Linked DNA regions of Homo sapiens: region 2 is linked to region 1. The links come from fine-mapping of genetic effects on gene expression. Tissue or cell type: left ventricle. Region 1 holds a variant in brackets; the other region holds the start of a gene. All regions are shown on one strand. Distances are from middle to middle.

Evidence for each region. PIP is the estimated chance that this variant, and not a neighbour inherited with it, causes the effect.
Region 2: SVOP starts here. The variant in region 1 is fine-mapped to the expression of SVOP in left ventricle (GTEx, PIP above 0.99).

The regions. Positions count from the first base shown.
Region 1 is chr12:108,962,507-108,973,157 of GRCh38, reverse strand. It overlaps SVOP (SV2 related protein), which reads left to right. Exons shown (of 16, transcript NM_018711.5): 5 at 682-753. Among named protein-coding and RNA genes, the nearest start is that of SVOP, 53 kb to the left of the region's middle. The variant C/T (reference allele first, on the strand shown) is at 6,103.
Region 2 is chr12:109,015,651-109,026,301 of GRCh38, reverse strand. It overlaps SVOP (SV2 related protein), which reads left to right and starts at 5,234. Exons shown (of 16, transcript NM_018711.5): 1 at 5,234-5,468. The coding sequence starts at 5,434. It also overlaps a transcript of USP30 not described here.

The DNA.
Region 1 (10,651 bases):
TCAGCATGGTGTCTGGCACTTGGAGAGGGAAGAGCATGGTGATGAGGTGCCAGTCAGCCTGCTTGGGCTTAAGACTTGCCTCTACTCTCTCCTTTCAGGGAGGCGGAGCAGGTTTCTAATCTATCTGAGCCTCAGCTCCCCATTCTGTCATATGAGTAGGATCATTCAAATCTCACCAGCTGTTACTCCAAGGATTAACAATGTAACAATGACTTGGCCTCCCACACAATGAGTGGTTTCTCTTACTAGTAGTTTACAGCTCCCATGCCAGCCTCCTGTATGCCAACCTCTACCTTGCAGCCCTTGGTATTTTCTCAGCAGCAGGGCAAGTGTTTCTTTGGGATGGTGTGAAACTTGTCAAAAGCTAGTTCTGGAGCCAGAATGCCTGATACCAGCGCAGGCTGCGCCACTTAACGCCTCTGTGACGCTGGTCCTGCAATTGCCTCTCTCTCTGAGTCTCAGTTCCCTCATCTGTAAAATGGGAATAATAATAGCACCCTCCCCATGGGATTGTTGGGAAGCTTGCGGGAAGCACTTAGTGTTTGCCCCTTGGCAGGCTCTCAGTGAATGTTAGATCATTGCTGTTACCTAGAGGGTGACGTCACCACTTCCGTTTGTTGTTCCCTTTCTGTGCAATGATCCACATCCTCTGTCTAATGACAACTGTCTTTCCCCCCACAGGTGGTCTTTGTAGGCATGATGTCCAGCTCCACGCTCTGGGGAAATATCTCAGACCAGTACGGCAGGAAAACAGTAAGGCAAACTTACTCTTCTAAACGCATGTCCTCTGGGTTGTCTTGGTGATGGTCTGGACAAGTAGCAAACCCGTTCTGCATTAGCAGTTGGGAGGCCTAATAAGGATGATGTTGAAGTACAGTGAGAAGACATTGCTGTAAGGCTGCTGTGGACTCTCTTCAAAGCACAGATTCCTAGTGGGGCCCACGCATATACATTTCAGAATCTAGACAATCAATGCCTATTCATATCCCCTGGACCAGAACCATTTCCTCATTACCCCTGGCTGGGGCAGTCAAGGGATACTAGATAAAGCCATTGATTCTCTTGCCCTAAAGAGAGCCATTTCTCAAATTTTGGGTTTTTTGTTTTTCTTTTTGTTTGAGACAGGGTCTTCCTGGAGTGCAGTGGCACAGTCTCAGCTCACAGTAGCCTCAACCTCCCAGGCTCAAGCAATCCTCCCACCTTAGCCCTCCAAGCAGCTGGGACTACAAGCATGCGCCAATACACCCAGCTCATTTTTGTATTTTTTGTAGAAATGGGATTTCACCATATTGCCCAGGCTGGTCTCAAATTCCTGGCCTCAAGCGATCCTCCTGCCTTGGCCTTCCCACAGCGCTGGGATTACAGACATGAGCCACTGCACCCAGAAAGCCATTTCTCAATCCCAGCAGGACTGAGCTCCAGTGTCTGCTGTGGGAGCCTGTTCATGAAGACACCCTGAATTACCTTCCTTCCCTTCCCTGTCTCACTTCTCCACTCCCCTACTGGAATCACTGCTCAAATAAACTATCTTTACTAGGATCCTTATCTTAGAGCCAGCTTTTGGGAGAGCTCAGACATGATATGAAATGGATTTGCAAACAAGAAGGAAGAGGGAACTTACAGCTCAGGGCCTTGAAATCAGGTGGACCCAGGTTCAGTGTCAATTTTGCCACTACTGGCTGTGTGATCTTGGGCAAGCAAACTGACATTTTTTTTTTTTTTTTTTTTTGAGACGGAGTCTTGCTCTGTCGCCCAGGCTGGAGTGCAATCGCACGATCTTGGCTCACTGCAACCTCGGCCTCCTGGGTTCAAGTGATTCTCCTGCCTCAGCCACCCAAGTAGCTGGGATTACAGGCACCTGCCACCAAGCCTGGCTAATTTTTGTATTTTTAGTACAGACAGGGTTTCACCATGTTGGCCAGGCTGGTCTCAAACTCCTGACCTCAAGTGATCCACCGGCCATGGCCTCCCAAAGTGCTGAGATTACAGGCATGAGCCACTGTGCTCAGCCAAATTGACCTCTTTGATTATCAATTTCCTAATACGTATAAAGAAGAAAATAACAGAACCTGTATTGGAGGGTTAATAGAGATGAATTAGGGTTAATTGAGGTGTAAATCACTGTTTCTTTTGTTTTTTTGAGACAAGGTCTTGCTCTGTTGCCCAGGCTGGAGTGCAAAGGTGCAATCATAGCTAACTGCAGCCTTGACCTTCTGGGCTCAAGCAATCCTCCCACCTGAGCCTCCCAAGTAGCTGGGACAAGACTTGTGCCACCATGCCCAGCTAATTGTTTTTTTATTTTTTGTAGACAGACAGGGTCTCACTATGTTGCCCAGGCTGGTCTCAAACTCCTGGCCTCAAGCAGTCCTCCCACCTCAGCCTCCCAAAGTGCTGGGATTACAGATGTGAGCCACTGTGTGAATCTCTTTGTACAATGCCAGGCACATGCTAGGCACAGGACACATGTAAACTGAAATTCCGAGTGTAGCATTTCTGACAAGACCCCATGCAATGTCAATGCTTGGGACCATACTTTGAAAACGATTGGCTTAGACTAAGAATAACCTACTACTGGAGCTGGGAATGGGCTACCTCAACAAACCTAGAATTCTGTTAGGAAGGAAGAAGTGAGATCTGGATGCTGGGTAGGTAACAGGCAATCTCCACTACAACTAGCAAATCATGGGCTGAAAATAAAATAGCGCGTTGTATAGCAGGCATGATGCAAAGTATGGTTCATGCGTTAGCTCATCCAATCCCCTTAATAACCATTGAAGTAGGTGCTATTATCACTCTAACTTGATAGAAGAGGAAACTGAGGCACGGAGAGTGGGCAACTTACCCAGGACCACATGGTTTGCTCATCACAGAATCAGGTCTTGCTCATTCTAAGTCTAGAGCTCTGTCTTCACTATGATGCCTGTGGCTTGAATCAGTAGGTGCTCCAGAAGCAGGTGATGGCTCAATGAATGAATGAACGTTCCAGCAATGCCATAGAGGATGCAGACTCCAGCTGCATCCCCTCTCACTGCTATTGCGCAGGAAACTTGGGCCAGCAGACACCTGGAAGATGGTGATCAATATAACTGCCAAGAAATGGTGATCAATATAATTGCCAAGAATGTAACTCCAGAGGCAGCAGGCTGGAAACTAAATGCAGCCATGATGGGCCTCGGGGTCTTGGCCGGTGATGGGGCTGGAGATGGCAGTTGGAAAGGCCTCTCTGGGGCTCCCAAAGGAAGTAAAAGCTGGTTATTACCCCCCTGTTAACCCAAGAAGGAATTACTCTGGTCTTCAGTGGCAGCTCCTTAGATTCTGCCCCCATCTGCTCTCCCACCCACTTCCTGTTTCTGGAGCATATGAGTGATGGCATGGTGATTTTCTGTTTGGAAGAATGAACAAGAGTTTAAGGACAGGAGAGAGGAAGGAAGGAAGGAAGGAAAAAAAAGGAGGAGGGAAGTAAAGAAGAAGGGAGGGAGGGAGAAGGGACAGAGGGAGGGAAGGAAGAAAAAAAGGAAGGAACTAAAGAGGGCATGAACGCGGTGGCTCATGCCTGTAATCCCAGCACTTTGGGAGGCCGAGGTGGGAGGATGACCTGAGGTCAGAAGTTCGAGACCAGCCTGACCAACATGGTGAAACCCCATCTCTACTGAAAATACAAAATTAGCCAGGCATGGTGGCGCATGCCTGTAAGCTACTCAGGAGCCGAGATCGTGCCATTGCACTCCAGCCTGGGCAACAAGAGTGAAAATTTGTCTCAGAAAAAAAAAAAAGAAAGAAAAGGAAAGGGGGAAAGAAGAAAGGAGAAAGAGAGCGAGGTAGGAAGGGAGGGGGGAGGAAGAAAGGAAGGAGGTAGGGAGAGAGAGTGAGGAAGGGGGAGAAGGAAGAAAAAAGGAAGAAAGGAGGGAGGGAAGGAGGAGGGAAGGAAGGAGAGAAGAAAAAACACCTCTGAAAATAAAACAGAGTCATTTTTGTTTTGATGGAGCTGAGCAGCCGTTAAAAGAACTGTAAAGCTGTGGCTGTCTGAGGCTGAATCCAATGTTAATCTTTAAGCCTTTAAAATAATCAAAGGAGGCCAGGAGTGGTGGCTCATGCCTGTAATCCCAGCACTTTGGGAGGACAGATCACCTGAGCTCAGGAGTTAGAGACCAGCCTAGGCAACATGGCGAAACCCCATCTCTACAAAAACTACAAAACTTAGCCAGGCCCAGTGGCATGCACCTGTAGTGCCAGGTACTCAGGAGGCTGAGGCAGGAGAATTGCTTGAACCCAGGATGGGGAGGCTGCAGTGAGCCGAGATCATGCCACTACACTCCAGCCTGGGCAACAGAGCGAGACTCTGTCTGGAAAAAAAAATTCATTTATTTGTTCCTGAGACAAACATGCACAAACACACACACACACACACACACAAAAGACAAACATGCACACACACACACACACACACTTCAGGAATCCATAATGAGGAAATTTGCTGAACCCCAAATTCTGCTATCCAATTGCTGAATCATAAGGCAGTGAGGAATATAACAGAAAATGAGTAAAAATACCTTAACTTTGGGCTTGAATCTGACACTGCATGGCTAAAGCAAGCCACTCCCCATCTAGGGCTGAAATTTCCTTATTTATATCAGAGGAGGCTGAATTAGAAAACACAGATATTCATAGCTACCATTCATTGAATCCCCAAAATGAAAGGGCAGGTGGGTTTTGTCTCTGTGTCTGTTCTAATCATTTATTAGAGGATGCCAGAAACATGGATTTGAGGAGTCAGAAGGCTCAGTGGGATAGTGCTGTGATTGACTAGTGTTGTCTGCCACAGGCACAAGACTGAAGAGTGTGGAGGGAATTTAGTAAACTCCGTGAGGAAAGGGGCTGCATTTGTTTTGTTCACTGAGTTGGCCCCAGAGCCTGACCTCCCTGGTTGAGAGTGCACACTCAATAAATACTTCTTGAGTGACTGAGCTGTGGTGGATGAGAACCAGACCTCCTTGTTTCCACTCTCTGCTACTTTCTTATCCTCTCTAGAGCAGCAACTGCCTTATCCTCTCCAGAGCAGCAACTGCCTGATGAGTGTTCTTTGTTGACCTGGAAAGTCCACAATGCACAATGGTCATTCATGTAGGATCCCAACTTCCCTTGGAAGAGTATATTTACTCTGCCACTAGGGGCAGTAATTCACTTGGCGTTCCCATATAGACATCTTCATGTTTGTGAAGGGCCTCAGAGGAGATTTTAAAGAGATTTACAGAGGGGTTTTCAGAAATGCCATTTACTGAATCTTGAAGGTTGTAACCATATTTTGGCACCTTCCAAAATAGTAGTTCTCAGTTCAGGGCTAGGGGCACTTGGCAATGTCTAGAGACATTTTTGATTGTCACACGTTGGGGGAGGGGTGTGCTACTGGCATCCAGTGCATAGGGGCCAAGGATTCTGCTTCATAGCCCACAGTGCATGGGACAGCCCCCACCACAAAGAATGACCCAGTCCAAGATGTTGGCGGTGCTGAGGTTGAGAAACCAGGCTCTAGAAAACATGTGCAAACAATATCGCCAAGTTGCAGTGATGTGGCATCCGCTCTTCATGTTCTTTCTTCATCTCCTGGGCCTGCTCAGCCCTCATTTCTTTCTTTCTTTCTTTTTTTCCTTTTTTTTTAATTGAGACAAAGTCGCGCTTTGTCACCCAGGCTGGAGTGCAGTGGTGAGATCTTGGCTCACTGCAAGCTCTGCCTCCCAGGTTCAAGCGATTCTCCTGCTTCAGCCTCCCAAGTAGCTGGGACTACAGGCACGTGCCACCAGGCCAGGCTAATTTTTATAATTTTAGTAGAGACGGGGTTTCACCGTGTTAGCCAGGATGGTCTCGATCTCCTGACCTCGTGATCTGCCCACATCGGCCTCCCAAAGTGCTGGGATTATAGGTGTGAGCCACCATGCCTGGCCTCAGCCCTCATTTCAATATTTACCTAAGAAGCTCATTTGGACAAGTGAAATAATGCAGTGTCATTGTGAAAAGCATGGGTTTTGAGGCCAGACTGCTTGGGTTCAAATCCCAGCTCCTCTAATTAAAGACAAGCTATTCAACTTCTCTGTGTCTCAGTTTTCT[C/T]ATCTGTAGGTGGGATAATAATAGTCTCTCCCATGGTGCTGTTATGAGGAGTAAATGGCCCTTGTACATAAAACTCTTGGCACAGAGAAAATGACATAAATGTCTATTATTATACCACTGCCAAGCTTGTGGTGTCCGTAAATGGCAATGCCAGCATTGAAATACAGGCACACCTGGCTCCAGGGTCCACATCCTTAACCCTGACCTTGGCCGCTGGGAGACATAACTGAATTATCCCTCAGAATTTAGTTGATTAGTTGAACATTCATTCATCCCAAATAGATGAAGCCCAGGAAGGCTGCCCATATGGTGTCCCGCCAGTTCTTCCAAACAGCTTGATAAATTCCATACCCAACATGAAACCGGCCTGACCAGAGGGAAAGAGAAAGTGTCCCCAGATTGCAGAGCTTCCTCCTCCCCAGCATGGAATTCTGGCCCAACCTCAGGAAGGACAGATCAGACTCTAATTATAAAGCTTCCCCAAAATTCCCCCAGGAACACTGTGCAAGCCAGGCAGCTGGCAAGCCTTGGCAACCACCGAGAACCTCCTTGATCTGCCCTGGCCCAGCTATAAGATTCCTGCCGGGGCGTTCACCGCATGATATTGTGGGGCATTCACATACGGGGTTAGGACTCAGTGAGCCACTTTGGTTCCTACAGAAGTTTCTACCACCTGGGAGTTTGTGGCAGCCATGGAAACGTGAAGGAAACTGTAGGTGTGTGGTCTTGAAGACATGGAGATAAACGCATCCAGGTTTATATCACAGTGCACCCCTGTTGACTGAGGTGAGCTTGGGCAAGATGCTTCACCTCTCTGAGCTTCAGTTTCCCCATCTGCAAAATAGACTCCATAATAGGCACTTTAATGGGGGGATTAAATAAGAAAATGTAGCCAGGCATGATGGCATGTGACTGTGGTCCAGGCTACTTGGGGGCTGAAGTGAGAGGATCGCTTGAGCCCAGGAATTCAAGGATGCAGTGAGCTGTGACTGAGCCACTGCACTCCAGCCTGGGTGACAGAGCAAGATGTCATCTCTAAAGAAGGAAAGGAAAGGAAGGAAGGGAGGGAGGGAAGTGGGGGGAGGGAATGGAGGGAGGGAGGAAAGAAGGAAAGAAGGAAGGAAGGAAGGGAGAGAGGGAAAAAGTGTATAATACACTTAGAATATGGTATGGAGCGGTCACTATCTAGTTCAAAAGCTATTAGGTCTATCTTATCTTTAAGAAGGAAGTGAAGGTGCCTGGCAGGCGCTCGGACTCCCTCTGATGATCCTTGGGCCTCCTCGACCTGTAAATACTGTCCTTCGGTTGAACGTGTTAGAGAATACCACAGGCCACATTTGGCCCACGAGCACCAGGCTTTCTAGGCTACAAGTTGCAAACTGGTAACCCATAGGCCAAATATGGCCCCCGATGTGTTTTATTTATCCTGCACAATGTTTTATAGGATTTTGAATCAGTTGCCTCCATTTCAAAAATGACATCTTGCATAAAAATAAAGTTATGTGTTTTTTGGAAAATCAGGTAATCTGGAGGCCTGGAACCCACATTTTGTCATGGTATCTTTTGGCTAGAGTTGAACAGAGGCTGACACGACAGGGAAAGTTCCCTGTAATTCCACCAGGCCCCCATCCTTGCTGTGTTACATGTGCATTGTGCATTTATGTTTTCTGTCAGAGGTCACAGGGAGCCATCAAAGGCTCTAGAGGAAGGGAGTGGCTCATTCAAGGTTGGAAGTTCTGGCTCCAACTTTGGCACCACTTACGGATCTTCAGCAAATTGCTCAACTACTTGGGCCCTTGCTATGCTAATTTGTAAAGTAGACATGAAAATAACAACCTTTGTTCACAGGGCTGCTGTGAGGACCCAGTGTAATGTTGTGACAGTGGTTAATGAAATGCAAATGAAAGTTCCATGAAGTCAGAGACTCTGGCTGTCATGTTCCTTACGGTAGCCCAGGGCCTAGCAAACAGCAGGTGTTCAATATATGCATATTTTATGCATGAATGGATGAATAATATATATCAGTATCTTTAATGCTGGCTACACAGCATGTGTTCAACATGTGTTTATTGAATAAATGAATGAATGGGTGAAGAAAATATGTCAGTGTCTGGTATACAGCAGGTGCTCAATACATGCTTATTGAATGAGCAAATTAATGAATGCATAATGTCTATGCATCTACCCTGGAGCCTTATATAAAGGGGATGCTCAATAAATGTAAAAAGAAGGGAGAGAGGGAAGGAGGAAAGAAGGAAGGAAGGAGCTATCAATCTATAGAGGGCAGAACAGATATTAGACGGAATGACAGTCATAGTTAATGAAAAGCCCAAAGGCCCGTGAGACATGTCTGCGGAGTCCCAAACAAGCTATTGGGTGGGGCTTGCTGGCAGTACCCCCTGCTTTTGTAATATCCATGACAGGCCTTACACAGGGTTGCTGAGCCCTCATTTTGGGGCAGCTGGAAAGCCCTGGCATCAACAGACAAATGCAGAGCCAGCTGCAACCTGTTGTGATCAAACAGGACAGATAATACGGCTCCCAGCAGACCTTGAAGGAGGGTTAACTCCCATGCACTTGTCTCGGTGCCTTCTTTTCTCCCGCTGATGCCAATTAAGTCTTCTGTTTGATTCAAGACTCCTTGGATTCCAAGGAAGAAAGTCCCTATTAAGTTAGCTTAAGCCAAAAGAAAGGGATTAAATGTCTGTATGGCCAGTACCGATGTTACAGTCATGGATTTAGGAGTGCAAAAATGTTGCTTTATTATTATCATCACTTCCTAGACTTTAGTAAATCCTGTGCCACCTATTATCTTATGTACTTAATATCTTTCTTCTTTCTTTCTTTTTTTTGATTTAATTTTTGTAGACCAAGGGTCTCGCTATGTTGCCCAGATTGGTCTCAAACTCCCAGCCTCAAGTGATCCTTTTGCCTCGAGCTCTCAAAGTGCTGGGATTACAGGCATGAGCCACCTTGCCCGGACCTGAATAACTTTCTTTATATCAAATTGCTTTTTAAAAATCGATCACTTGTAACATGGGGCTAATAAAAAAATTGTAATATATTTTTGGAAAGTGAAACTATACAGTCTTAATTGGAAGATCAATAACAATTGCCTTAAGTAGGAAGTGACTGCAAAAATAAATGCAACACAAACAAAGCAATGTTATTAAATTCTTAGTGGTTGTGGTTGTCCCAGTGCCTTCTGTGTTAAATAGAGAGGAGAGTAGCTATTTTTTAAAATGTGTTGGCTGGGTGTGGTGGCTCATGCCTGTAATCCTAGCACTTTAGGAGGCTGAGGTGGGTGGATTGTTTGAGTCCAGGAGTTCGAGACCAGCCTGGGCAACATGGCGAAACCCTGGTCAACATGGCAAAACACTTACTCTACCAAAAGTACAAAAATTAGCTGGCCATGGTGGTGCAAACCTGTAATACCAGCTACTCAGAGGCTGAGGCAGGAGAATCGCTTGAACCCAGGAGGCGGAGGTTGCAGTGAGCTGAGATCGTGCCACTGCACTCCAGCCTGGGTGACTGAGCGAGACTCTATTTCAAAAAAAAAATAAATAAATACAAATAGATAAATAGGTGTTAAAGACAGACTGGCACCTCACGGACTCTTTGACATAATCATAAAAATGAAGACTGAAATGAAAAAAATAACTTTCTTGTGAGGTGATGCAAAATTATTTAAAATATTCTCTCTGCCACATAAAGTCATTTTCTAAAAGACTCGAAATCATTTGGTAGGCTTCCAAATTTCCTCACTCATCTCCTTTAATTCAGTTTAATATCTTAAAGCAAAAAATCAGTATGTTTCATACTTGCCCCCTGAAGTGTTCCCTGGGGGACAGGAAGGTGAACTCACCCTTGGAGCTCTGGGAAGGGTATTGCAGAAAGAGGCCTGACCAGACCTCACAGAGCAGGTTGAAAATGCACGTGAAATTTGCATTTTACCCTCTCATATTTGGCATTGATTGTGATATAAAAATAGTATTTGTTTACTCTTAATTTTTTTTCCAATCTCTAAGGGTAATTAACACTCCAGGAATATGTGCCATGTTTGTCTTTTTTGTTTTGTTTTGTTTTGTTTTGAGATAGAGTCTCACTCTGTCCCTCAGGCTGGAGTGCAGTGGCAAGTTCTTGGCTCACTGCAACCTCCACCTCCCAGGTTCAAGCAATTCTCCTGCCTCAGACTCCCAAGTAGCTGGGACTACAGGCACCCGCCACTCCACCTGGCTAATTTTTGCATTTTCAGTAGAGACAGGGCTTCACCATGTTGGCCAGGCTAGTCTTGAGCTCCTGGCCTCAAGTGATCCCCGGCCTCAGCCTCCCAAAATGCTGGGATTACAGATGTGAGCCACCGTGCTCGGCCCCATGTTTGTCTTGAAGCATTGTGTCCCTCTGTGGTTCTTGACCCTATTGAACACATGCCCTCTTTACTTTAAAAATGTGGAAAATGTGCCTCTGTAATCCCAGCTACTCAGGAGACTGAGGTAGGAGGATCCCTTGAACTCAGGAGTTCAAGATCAGCGTGGGCAACATAGCAACA
Region 2 (10,651 bases), 53 kb before region 1:
GAGTTCGAGACCAGCCTGGGCAACACAGTGAAGCCCTGTCTCTACCAAAAATACAAAAATTAGCAAGGTGTGATGGCATGCGCCTGCAGTCCCAGCTACTCAGGAGGCTGAGGTGGGAGGATGATTTGAGCCTGGGAAGTGGAGGTAGCAGTTAGCTGAGATTGCATCATTGCACTCCAGCCTGGGCAACAGAGCCAGACCCTGTTTCAAAAAATTTATTTTAATTAAAAAATTATTTAAAAGAATCATGGTAGTAAGATACACATGGTTTTAAAAATAAAATAGTACCAAAAATTTACAACTTAAAAAACGCTTCATGCCAGGGTCAGTGGCTCACACCTGTAATGCCAGCACCTTTGGCCAAGGTGGGAGGATCCCTTGAGCCCAGGAGTTTGAGATCGGCCTGGGCAATGAAGCAAAACTCCATCTCTACAAAAAATACAAAAATTAGCCAGGTGTGGTGGTGCACACTTGTAGTCCTAGCTACTCGGGAGGCTGAGGTGGGAGAATCGCTAGAGCTGGGCTGAGGCAGGAGGATTACTGTCCAGGCTGCAGTGAGCTGTGATCACACCACTGCACTCCAGCCTGGGTGACAGAGCAAGACCCTGTCAAAAAAAAAAAGTGGCAGTTCCACTTCCACCCACTCTCAGTCTTTTAGCTGCTTCTTTTAGTATCTACAGGCAAATTTCTATATGAGATACTCATATGGCTAGTTTTTGTTTTCTCAATTTTGGACATGTTCTGTTGATTTCCATAAACTTGAGGAGGATTTAGTTTTTCCCAATACCATCTATTTTTCTTATCCTTCATAGGCCAGCTAACATTTTAAGGTAGTAGAAAAGATATTGATTTGGGGGCTGGGGGGTGAAGAGAGCAACATAATGATAAGCACTGTATTAGTCAGAGCTCTCCGGATAGACAAAACCAACAAGATAAATAATATCTTCATATAATATAATATATTACATAGATATAAATATAAGGTATCTCTCATATAATACATGAAGGGATTTATCAGGGGAATTGGCCAACATAATTAGGGAGGCTGAGAATTTCCATAACAGACCATTTGCAAGCTAGAAACCCTGGGATGCTGGGCCAAATTCAAGGGCCCAAAAACCCAAGGGGGCCACACATGTAAGTCTTGGTTTCTAAAGACTAAAGAGCCTGCAGTTCTGATGTCCAAGGGCAGGAGAAGAAACAGCTCCTGGAGAAAGAGATCAACTCACCTTTCCTCTGTTTCTGTTCTGTCTGGGCCTCTAGCTGATTTGATGGTGCTCATTCACACATCGAGGGCAGATCTTCCTGAACTTTGTCCACTCAGACTCACACAGCAATCTCCTCTTGAAACACCCTTACAGACACACCAAAAAATGCTGCTTTAGGCTGGTGTGGTGGTTCACGCCTGTAATCCCAGCACTTTGGGGGGCCAAGGCAGGTGGATCACGAGATCAGGAGATCGAGACCATCCTGGCTAACATGGTGAAATCCTGTCAATACTAAAAATACAAAAAATTAGCCCAGGGTGGTGGTGGGCGCCTGTAGTCCCAGCTACTCAGGAGGCTGAGGCAGGAGAATGGCATGAACCTGGGAAGCAGAGCTTGCAGTGAGCTGAGATCGCGCCACTGCACTCCAGCCTGGGAGACAGAGCGAGACTCGGTCTCGGGAAAAAAAAAATGCTGCTTTACCAGTTCTCTAGGTATTCCTTAAACCCACCAAGTTGATACTTAAAATTAATCATTGTGGCCGGGCACGGTGGCTCAAGCCTGCAATCCCAGCACTTTGGGAGGCCGAGGCAGGTTGATTGCTTGAGCTCACGAGTTTGAGGCCAGCCTGGGCAACATGATGATACCCCCTCTCTATAAAAAATACAAAAATTAGCCTGGCATGGTGGCGCACACCTGTAATCCCAGCTATTCGGGAGGCTGAGGTGGGAGGATGGCTTGAGCCTGAAAGGTGGAGGTGGCAATGAGCTGAGATCACACCACCACACTCCAGCCTGGATGATAGAGCCAGATCTTGTCTCAAAAAATAAAATTAAAATAAATTAATTTAACCATTGCAACAGCTAACACTTATTATGTGCCATCCAAGTGTGTGGTCCTTCACCTCCATTTTATCTTTGATTCTGACCACCACCCTATGAAGTAGTTATGGTTATTGATCCCCGTATTTCTGATGAGGAAATGCAAGCACGGAAAGTTAGACAACCTGCTCGAGGTTACCCACCCAGGAAGAGGTGGAGCTGGGAAGAGAGTCCCCAGGACTGAGCCTGCTTTAACCACTCTCCAGTTCCAGGCTGCAAACTCCCTTTTTCCTTTGAAGGAACTTGACTTGGTCTCTGTTGAACATCAAAAAATACTGATTGGCCAGTCGCGGTGGTGATCACACCTGTAATCCCAGCACTTTGGGAGGCCGAGGCAGGTGGATCACAAGGTCAGGAGTTCAAGACCAGCCTGGCCAAGATGGTGAAACCCCGTCTCTACTAGAAATACAAAAAAATTAGCCAGGCATGGTGGCGGGCACCTGTAATCCCAGGTACTTGGGAGGCCGAGGCAGAGAATTGCTTGAATCCGGGAGGTGGAGGTAGCAGTGAGCCGAGATTGCGCCATTGCACTCCAGCCTGGGTGACAGAGAGAGACTCTGTCTCAAAAAAAAAAAAAAAAAAAAAAAGTCCTGATTAAGGCACATGAGTAGAAGCTGAAATGGGATGATAAGGGGGCTATTTATTTATTTATTTATTTATTGAGACAGAGTTTCGCTCTATCACCCAGGCTGGAGTGCAGTGGCGCGATCTCAGCTCATTGCAACCTCTGCTTCCTGGCTTCAAGCGATTTTCCTGCCTCAGCCTCTCGAGTAGCTGGGACTACAGGTCTGTGCCACCACACCTGGCTAAGTTTTTTTATTTTCAAGTGGAGACGAGGTTTTGCCATGTTGGCCAGGCTGGTCTGGAACTCCTGACCTCAAGTGATCCATCCGCCTCGGCCTCCCAGAGTGCTGGGATTATAGGCGTGAGCCATGGTACCCGACCCCTAAGAGGGCTGTTTAGAGTGAGCATAATGAATATTCATAGAGCCCTAGAGAGCCCCACCTGACACCAGGATTGAGGGAAAAGGGGTAATTAAAGCAAAAACCTTCAGAGACATTTGAATCCATAATCGAAAAGGTACCAGGTTGTCCAGCTCCCTTTCCCAGCTATGCAACAATGGGGATACTGACAAGTGTTTGGATTGGATGTCTTTAGATAAGTGTCCACCCTCTTAGCCAATCAGCTGTGGCCAGGAATCATGTGATACCAAATGTAGTGCACAGCAGGGATGGGGGAGAGATTCCTTTAGAAATAAGTGTGGGTGGGACAACTTGTGATTGACTCCAGTATGAGGTGAGAAGGAGCCATGAATAAGTTCAAACTATCATTGTGACAGACACATAGTTGTTGCTCATTAATATTTACTAGATAAATAATACATTGGAGCTTGAGTACCACTGTATAATTGGTTTTCCCAACATTAGATTTGTTTAAAGTTATCCAATGTTTCAATAGTTCCAATTTCTCCTACTATACCCGCAATGGATGGTTTCTTTTGAGACACTCAGAGAAAGCCTAGCATTTAAGGGCGCAGGTTGTGGAGATAGACTGCCGGGGTTTTAAGTCCAGATCAACTCTTTCCTGTCCTCATGACCTTGTGCAAGCAAATCTACCCTTCTCTGAGCCTTGTTTCCTCATCTTACAAAATAAGGATAAAAATCACACCTGCTCATAGGATTGTTGCAAAGATCAAGGGGACCATGGTGAAGTACATATCCGGGTGCCTGGCACACATTCAATTTTGGATTTTCAAGTCCTTTTATGGATTCGATGTGAGATTGTTTTCAGTTCTCAGATTGGTTTTCTTGTTCCCTCTTCCAACTTCCCCCACCCTTTGTCAACAATTAAAGAAAAAAAGAAAAAAATGTTTCCTTCTTCCTTTAGTTCCTTGTAAGTGTCCATTCAACGGTCATTCTCATAGCTTTTGCCAGTTGCCATCATGGATCATCTTAGTAGTTTTCTGTTGTATAATTTTCCAGCTTTTCTTTTCATTTGTTCACACTTGATCAGGGGTTTCCACTTCATGGTGCTGGGGAGCTTTTAAAAAATACCCTGAGGCCGGGCGCAATGGCTCACATCTATAATCCCAGCATTTTGGGAGGCCGAGATGGGAGGATTGCTTGAGGCCAGGAGTTCTAGATCAGCCTGGGCAACAAAGCAAGACCCCATCTCTACAATAAATAAATTAGCTGGGTATGCTGGGATGAGCCTGTGATCCCAGCTACTAGGGAGGTTGAGGTGGGAGGATTGCTTTAGCCCAGGTGGTTGGGGCTGTAATGAGCCATGATCATGCCACTGCAACTCCAGCCTGGGCAACAGAGCAAGAACTTGTCTCAAAAATAAATAAATAAATATTGAAAAAATAAAAAATACCCAGGCTTGGCCTCCACCTCCCGAGAGTTGAGTTCAATTGGTTTGAAATGGAGCCAGGCAATTCTTATATGCAGCCTGAACTGAGAACCATTTATTCAACAAATATTTATGGGGTACCTTCTATGTGCCAGACACTGTTCTAGTACTTGGGACACATCAGTGAAACCTCATGGAGCTTAAGTTCTAAAGGGGTCAGAAATTCTAGTGAGAGGTGGCTTAGGGGAACCATTAAACTATCTAGGATCTTGAAGGCAGAGACTTTATTTTACTCATGTTTTTATTCCCCAGGGTCAGGGCTGTAGAATTCACCCAATAACGCTTGTTGAAAGAATGAGTGATCTTTGGCCTTCTCATACCTAATTTACATTTTTCTTTTCTTGATTCATTTCACTAGACCCTTAGCTCCACGATGACAATGACAGGTCGAATTTGTTCTGTCATACCCCCAGTGCCTATTACAGTGCCTGGCACATAGGTGCTCAGTAAACCGTACTTAAATGCATGCCTGTATTTGTTACAGCAGCCTGGGTTTCAAGAGTGTTATACGGATAACATTAATGAATCCACGCAAATAAACATTTAGACACGCATCGTCAATCAAAGGGTGCTCACTGGTACCCGGACAACCATTTCACAGACTGGTGTGCCCTATAGGCATCCCAGTGATACACCATCAGCCAGAGAGCCTGTGAACTCTTCCAAGCAGAAGGGCTCTCCCTGCCCCCTCTCCCCGCGCAGCTCGCTCTGCCCTCCGCCTCCTCTTCTCCGCCCACTCTCGCCGCGGTCTCCTGGCGGCGGAGGCTTTGTCTCGTGGGCTGGTCCCCAGCGGCTCCCTCCCCGAACAGCTGCTGCTCCAGGGAGGAAGCGGCGCGGGTGCTGTCCAGCTTCCCGGTGCTGAAAACCGGAGGGCTCGTCATCCACCACTACCATGTAAGGGCCATGAGAAGGGCTCATCCTGGCGCAGCGCGGACATGGAGGAGGACTTATTCCAGCTAAGGCAGCTGCCGTGAGTATCATGGGGGCGAGCAAGAGGCAGACAGGCTTTCTTTTAAAAAACGAAAACCTGCAAGGGGGGTGGGGGGGGGTACATCTCTGCATGGTTTCTTGAATTTAAAGGGAACTGTTTCAGAGGAAGGAATTAGGGCCTGGAGGAGACAAGCCATTTTCTTTCCCCAGCAGCCCAGCCTCTGTATCTCTGACTCAGTTCCATTTATCAGATCTGTCAGGACCTTATGGGGGAACCACGGGGGTTATGATTCCCCTTTTAATTGCTCTCAATCCTAAAAGGATTTTCAGATGTGAGCTTTAAGAAAGCATTAGCTGCTGTTTTGAAATGTGGACAGAATTGGTGAGTCTATGCAATGACATCGGTCCTTTCCAGCCCTAATCCTATGCTGTGAAATCCATAATTTTTCTGCAAGGTCTTTTGGAAGGGAATGATACTGATGCTGCAAACTGGTTGATAAAAAAAACTGGGATGCCTTCCTAGAGGAGAGGGTTGGGCAAAGTCCTGTTGTTTATGAAGTGTGTGAATGAGAGGGCTGTGCACGGTCGGTGAAACCTCTTGCCTTCTTCTGAATGAAAGGTTTTTGTAGCAGCTAGCTAGAGTGAGACTCACTGTCGGAACATCAGGAATATACTGCTTTGAGGATGGCGATTTTTAAGAAAAACCAAATTTGCTCTGAGAATCTGGGGGAAATATCAAGCAACCGAAAGGACAGGGGCCTTGTAGAGGGGCTTACAGATTTTTCCTACCACAAGCAGATAGTGATTTGTTAAGTAAATTCCAAGAGTATGAGAGGGGGCATTAAAAAGAACATTGGTGGGGCAGGGGTTGTTTTAATTTTTAGAAGCACTAGCCATTTGAGTGGTAAGAGTAGATTCCCTTTGGGATTGTTAGAAAGGATAAATTATAGTTAGTGTGTGTGTATTTTCTTGATTTTAAAAATGGTGGATTATTTTTTTCTATAATCTACTGAGGAATTCTCCCAAGTGACTTTTAGTGTGACTGATACAGTTCTCTGAGGCTGTGAGTACTGAAGGGGATTGTAATGTTTACTTTTCAATCAGAGTAAAATTAGTTTTCACCAAAATTTTTAATTAATTTAAAATTTGCTTTAAAGTTTTACTAATTGATCCACAAATAGTATATCTGATTATGTAATACAGCATTATTTCACAAATGCTAGAGGATGTTCAGTAATAATATCCAGACGTAGATATAACAGTACATAAAAATGTAAAGGTCTGATTACAAATTTCCCAAGGAAAACATACAACTTTTATTGAGAATAAATATCATGTTCAAAAATAAAATGATTACCCCCAATAAAAAATAATTTAATATCAGAAATGTGAACTTTGGTACTCAGAATTAGACTACATATTGGAACTGTGGTTTTCCTGGGATAAATTTTTCAATAATGTCAGAGGATGTGAACTTTTCAAAGATTCATGTGTATATGAACTTTGCAAAAGGGTCATGTATATTTAATCTACTAATATATAGACCTGACATTATCATGACAATTCCTTCTTTAATTAAAAAAAGCAAAAATAAGAAGTTTTCACTTATTTAAATGTAAAAATTTAGGTTTTTATAGGAATATAATACAATGTACCAATAAATAAAGGTAAATAAAGTTCAAAGAGAAGCACAAGAATAAAGAGTAAGTCTCCTTTCTTTTCAAACCCCAGTTCTATTCCCCAGAGTTAAGTTTCTTGATTATTCTTTCTGGTGCTTAATAGGCATAAATACATATATTATCTATTAGGCCAAATTGTGTACTGGTTAAGTACATTATCTCTTGAATCAGACATACTTGGGTTCAAATCCTTACTATGCCACTTCCTGGCTGTGTGACTTTAAGCAAGTGACTTAACCTTTCTGAGACTCAGTTTCCTTAGCTACACAATGAGGATCATAACAGTACTTAATTCATAAGGTTATTGTGAAGATCAAATGAGATAATGTATGCCAAATGCCGGGCAGACACAAAGCACTCAATGCATATTAGCTATTACTATTATTACATCTGAAAAATCATTTATATAAACAAAATATGTAGGTTTACTGTACTGGACTCCCTCAAAATCTTAATCTGCAAACCCCAAATGACATTTGAATGAAGTCAAAATTAGCCCTGAAATGTGTTGACCTCAATTTCTAAAAAAAGAGTAAGCTAAAAGGAATGGCCACATGAATCTGAGTGGGTTACAAATCACGATTTAGATGTTTTTTAAACCACACCCTTCGTATATTATGCACAGATTGCAGGCAGCAGATTTCCCGAGAGCAATATGGCTAAAAAAAAATTCAGAGTGCCTTGTAGAGGGTTGGCAAGAGTGGACTTTGGAATAGGCTCAGTCCCGTGGGAGGCCAAGTGTTAGCAGATTATAAGCCACTAAGTAGTTCACATGGTTGGGGAATGGGGAAAGGGAGTGAGGGAGTCTAAGAAACAGTCCTTCCTCACACTTGAAGGAACCCTCACACAGCTCTGGGGTGGTTCATTTGAGACCACAAAAGACCATTGTTTTTCACATGCTGTCCACTCTGGGACAGCACCACATAGAGGAGATTTGGGAGGCTGAGAGTTTGCATCCAGTTCTGCCTTTTTGTGTGACCTTGTGCAAATCAGACTTTTCTAGGTCTGTTCTTTCTAGGATGATTTCTTGAAAGCAAGTTTGCAGACACTGATTGATCGATTCATTCATTCATTCATTCATTCATTCATCCATCCATTCTTTCACTGATTTACTTAGATACCATCCTAGGTACAAAGGATTCTACAGCTGAGTAAGGTAGAATGGTTCTTGCGCTTAAGCACCTCGCAATCTAGAGCTGCAATGTCCAATAGTACATTTAGCCACTAGCTACATGTGGCTATTTAAATTTAAACTTAAATGAATTTAAAGTATGCATTTTGTACATGAAATAATTTATATAGTATAATAAAGAATATAAAATGTATATATAATATACAATAGAAAATATGTGGCCAGGTGCAGTGGGTCATGCCTATAATCCCAGCACTTTGGGAGACCGAGGTGGGTGGATCATTTGAGGTCAGCAGTTCGAGACAAGCCTGACCAACATGGTGAAACACTGTCTCTACTAAAAATACAAAAAAAATTAGTCAGGCATGGTGGCACATCCCAGCTACTTGGGAGGCTGAGGCAGGAGAATCTCTTGAACCTGGGAGGCAGAGGTTGCGGTGAGCAAAGATTGTGCCACTGCACTCCAGCCTGGGCAACACAGTGAGACTCTGTCTCAAAAAAAATGTGTGTGTATATATATAATGTAAAATTTTAAAAAAATCTGTCCCTCAGTCATACTAACCACATTTCAAATACTCAATAGCTACATGTGGCTAGTGGCTACTATATTGGACAGCATACGTGTAGGCCAGCAGTCCCCAACTTTTTTGGCTCCAGGGACTGGTTTCTTGGAAGACAATTTTTCCATGGATGGGGGTGGTTAGGTAGGGGGATGGGGTTGGGGTTTCAGGATAAAACCATTCCACCTCAGATCTTCAGGCATTAGATTCTCATAAGGAGCCTGCAACTTAGACCCCTTGTGTGTCAGTTCACAATAGGGTTCACGCTCCTATGAGAATCTAATGCCGCTGCTGATTGACAGGAGGTGGAGCTTGGGCGGTAATGCTCACTCACCCAAGGCTCACTGTGCAGCCCGGTTCCTAACAGGCCAGAGACCGTTACGGGTCCTTGGCCCAGGGATTGGGGACCCCTGGTCTAGGACATTTCCATAATTGCAGAAAGTTCTATTGGACAGCACTGGTTTGGTAGGAGGGAGGACACTGAACACATCATTGCAAATAATTATGAGAATTGTCTTAAGTGCTATCAAGAACTACTGCAAGCCTGGGGAATATATTGAGACCTGTTACTACTAAAAAAATTTTTTTCTTAATTAGCCAGGTCTGGTGGCTCATGCCTGTGGCCCCAACTACTAGGGAGGCTGAGGCAGGAGGATTGCTTGAGCCTGGGGGTTCAAGGCTGCAATGAGCCATGATCATGACACTGCACTCCAGCCTGAGTGACAGAGTGAGATCCTGTCTCAAAAAAAAAAAAAAAAGAACTAATGCAGGGTACAGGTAAGGAAACTAGTTTTAGATGGGAGGTGGGTATCAGGGAAGGCTTCCCTGAGGAAGTGACATTTGACCTGATCCTCTGGAGATATGATTTCAGGAAAAAGAGAGAGGATTAAGAACATTCCAGGAAGAAGAAACTGTATGGGTAAAAGCCCTGAATTGGGAAAAAAGCTTGGTGTGTCTCAAAATCAGCCAAAAGATCATTAATGAACAAGTGGCTTGAGGGGAAACTGCTGAGGATAACAGGGAGTAGGCCATCCAGGGTCTTGTAGTATATGACAAGGAGTTGGGACATCATCCTGCATTTGCTGAATCTACTGTCTCCTTTCTTACAAACCCTGTCTTTCAAGATTGAGTTTGGGTCCACCATTTTAATAAATCTGCCCCTGACTTCTGCCGGTCTTAATCAATAGCAGAGGTAAAAATGTGGAAACTGACTCAGGCAGATCTGGGTTCAAACTCTGGCTCCGGCCCTATCTGGGTGGCCTCGGGCCAAAGCCTTCTTCTCCCCAAGGCTGAGTGCCTATCGGTGAAGTCAGAACAGTGATAATACCTGCAGGGCTGTTGTAAGGATCAGAGAGATAATCGCTGGGAAGCTCTCAGCACAGTGCCTGGCTTTGAGTATGGTCTCGATTTGTGGTGCTGGTATTGTTTTCCTCCACTCAGCATTCGTTTCCCTGATCTTCCAACTTATTAGGTAGTAGGAGCGCCTGGAAGCCACATTCTCCTGTGCAAAACACTAAGAAGATGTCTGGTGTGGTGTGAGAGCACATGTCTGAACTTGAACTCTTCGTCCGTCCTCCACCTGCTCCTCTTTCAGCCTCCCCCATCTCAGTTGATAACAACTCCATTTGTCCCATTTGGCCGGAAACTTTGGAGTCAAGTTAGACTCCCCTCTTCCTCCCATTTCACTTTTTTGTTTTGTTTTGTTTTGTTGAGACAGAGTCTCGCTCTGTTGCCCAGGCTGGAGTGCAGTGGTGTGATCTCAGCTCACCGCAACCTCTGCCTCCCAGGTTCAAGCGATTATCATAGCCACCCCTGTAGCTGGGATAACAGGCATGCACCACCATGCCCAGCT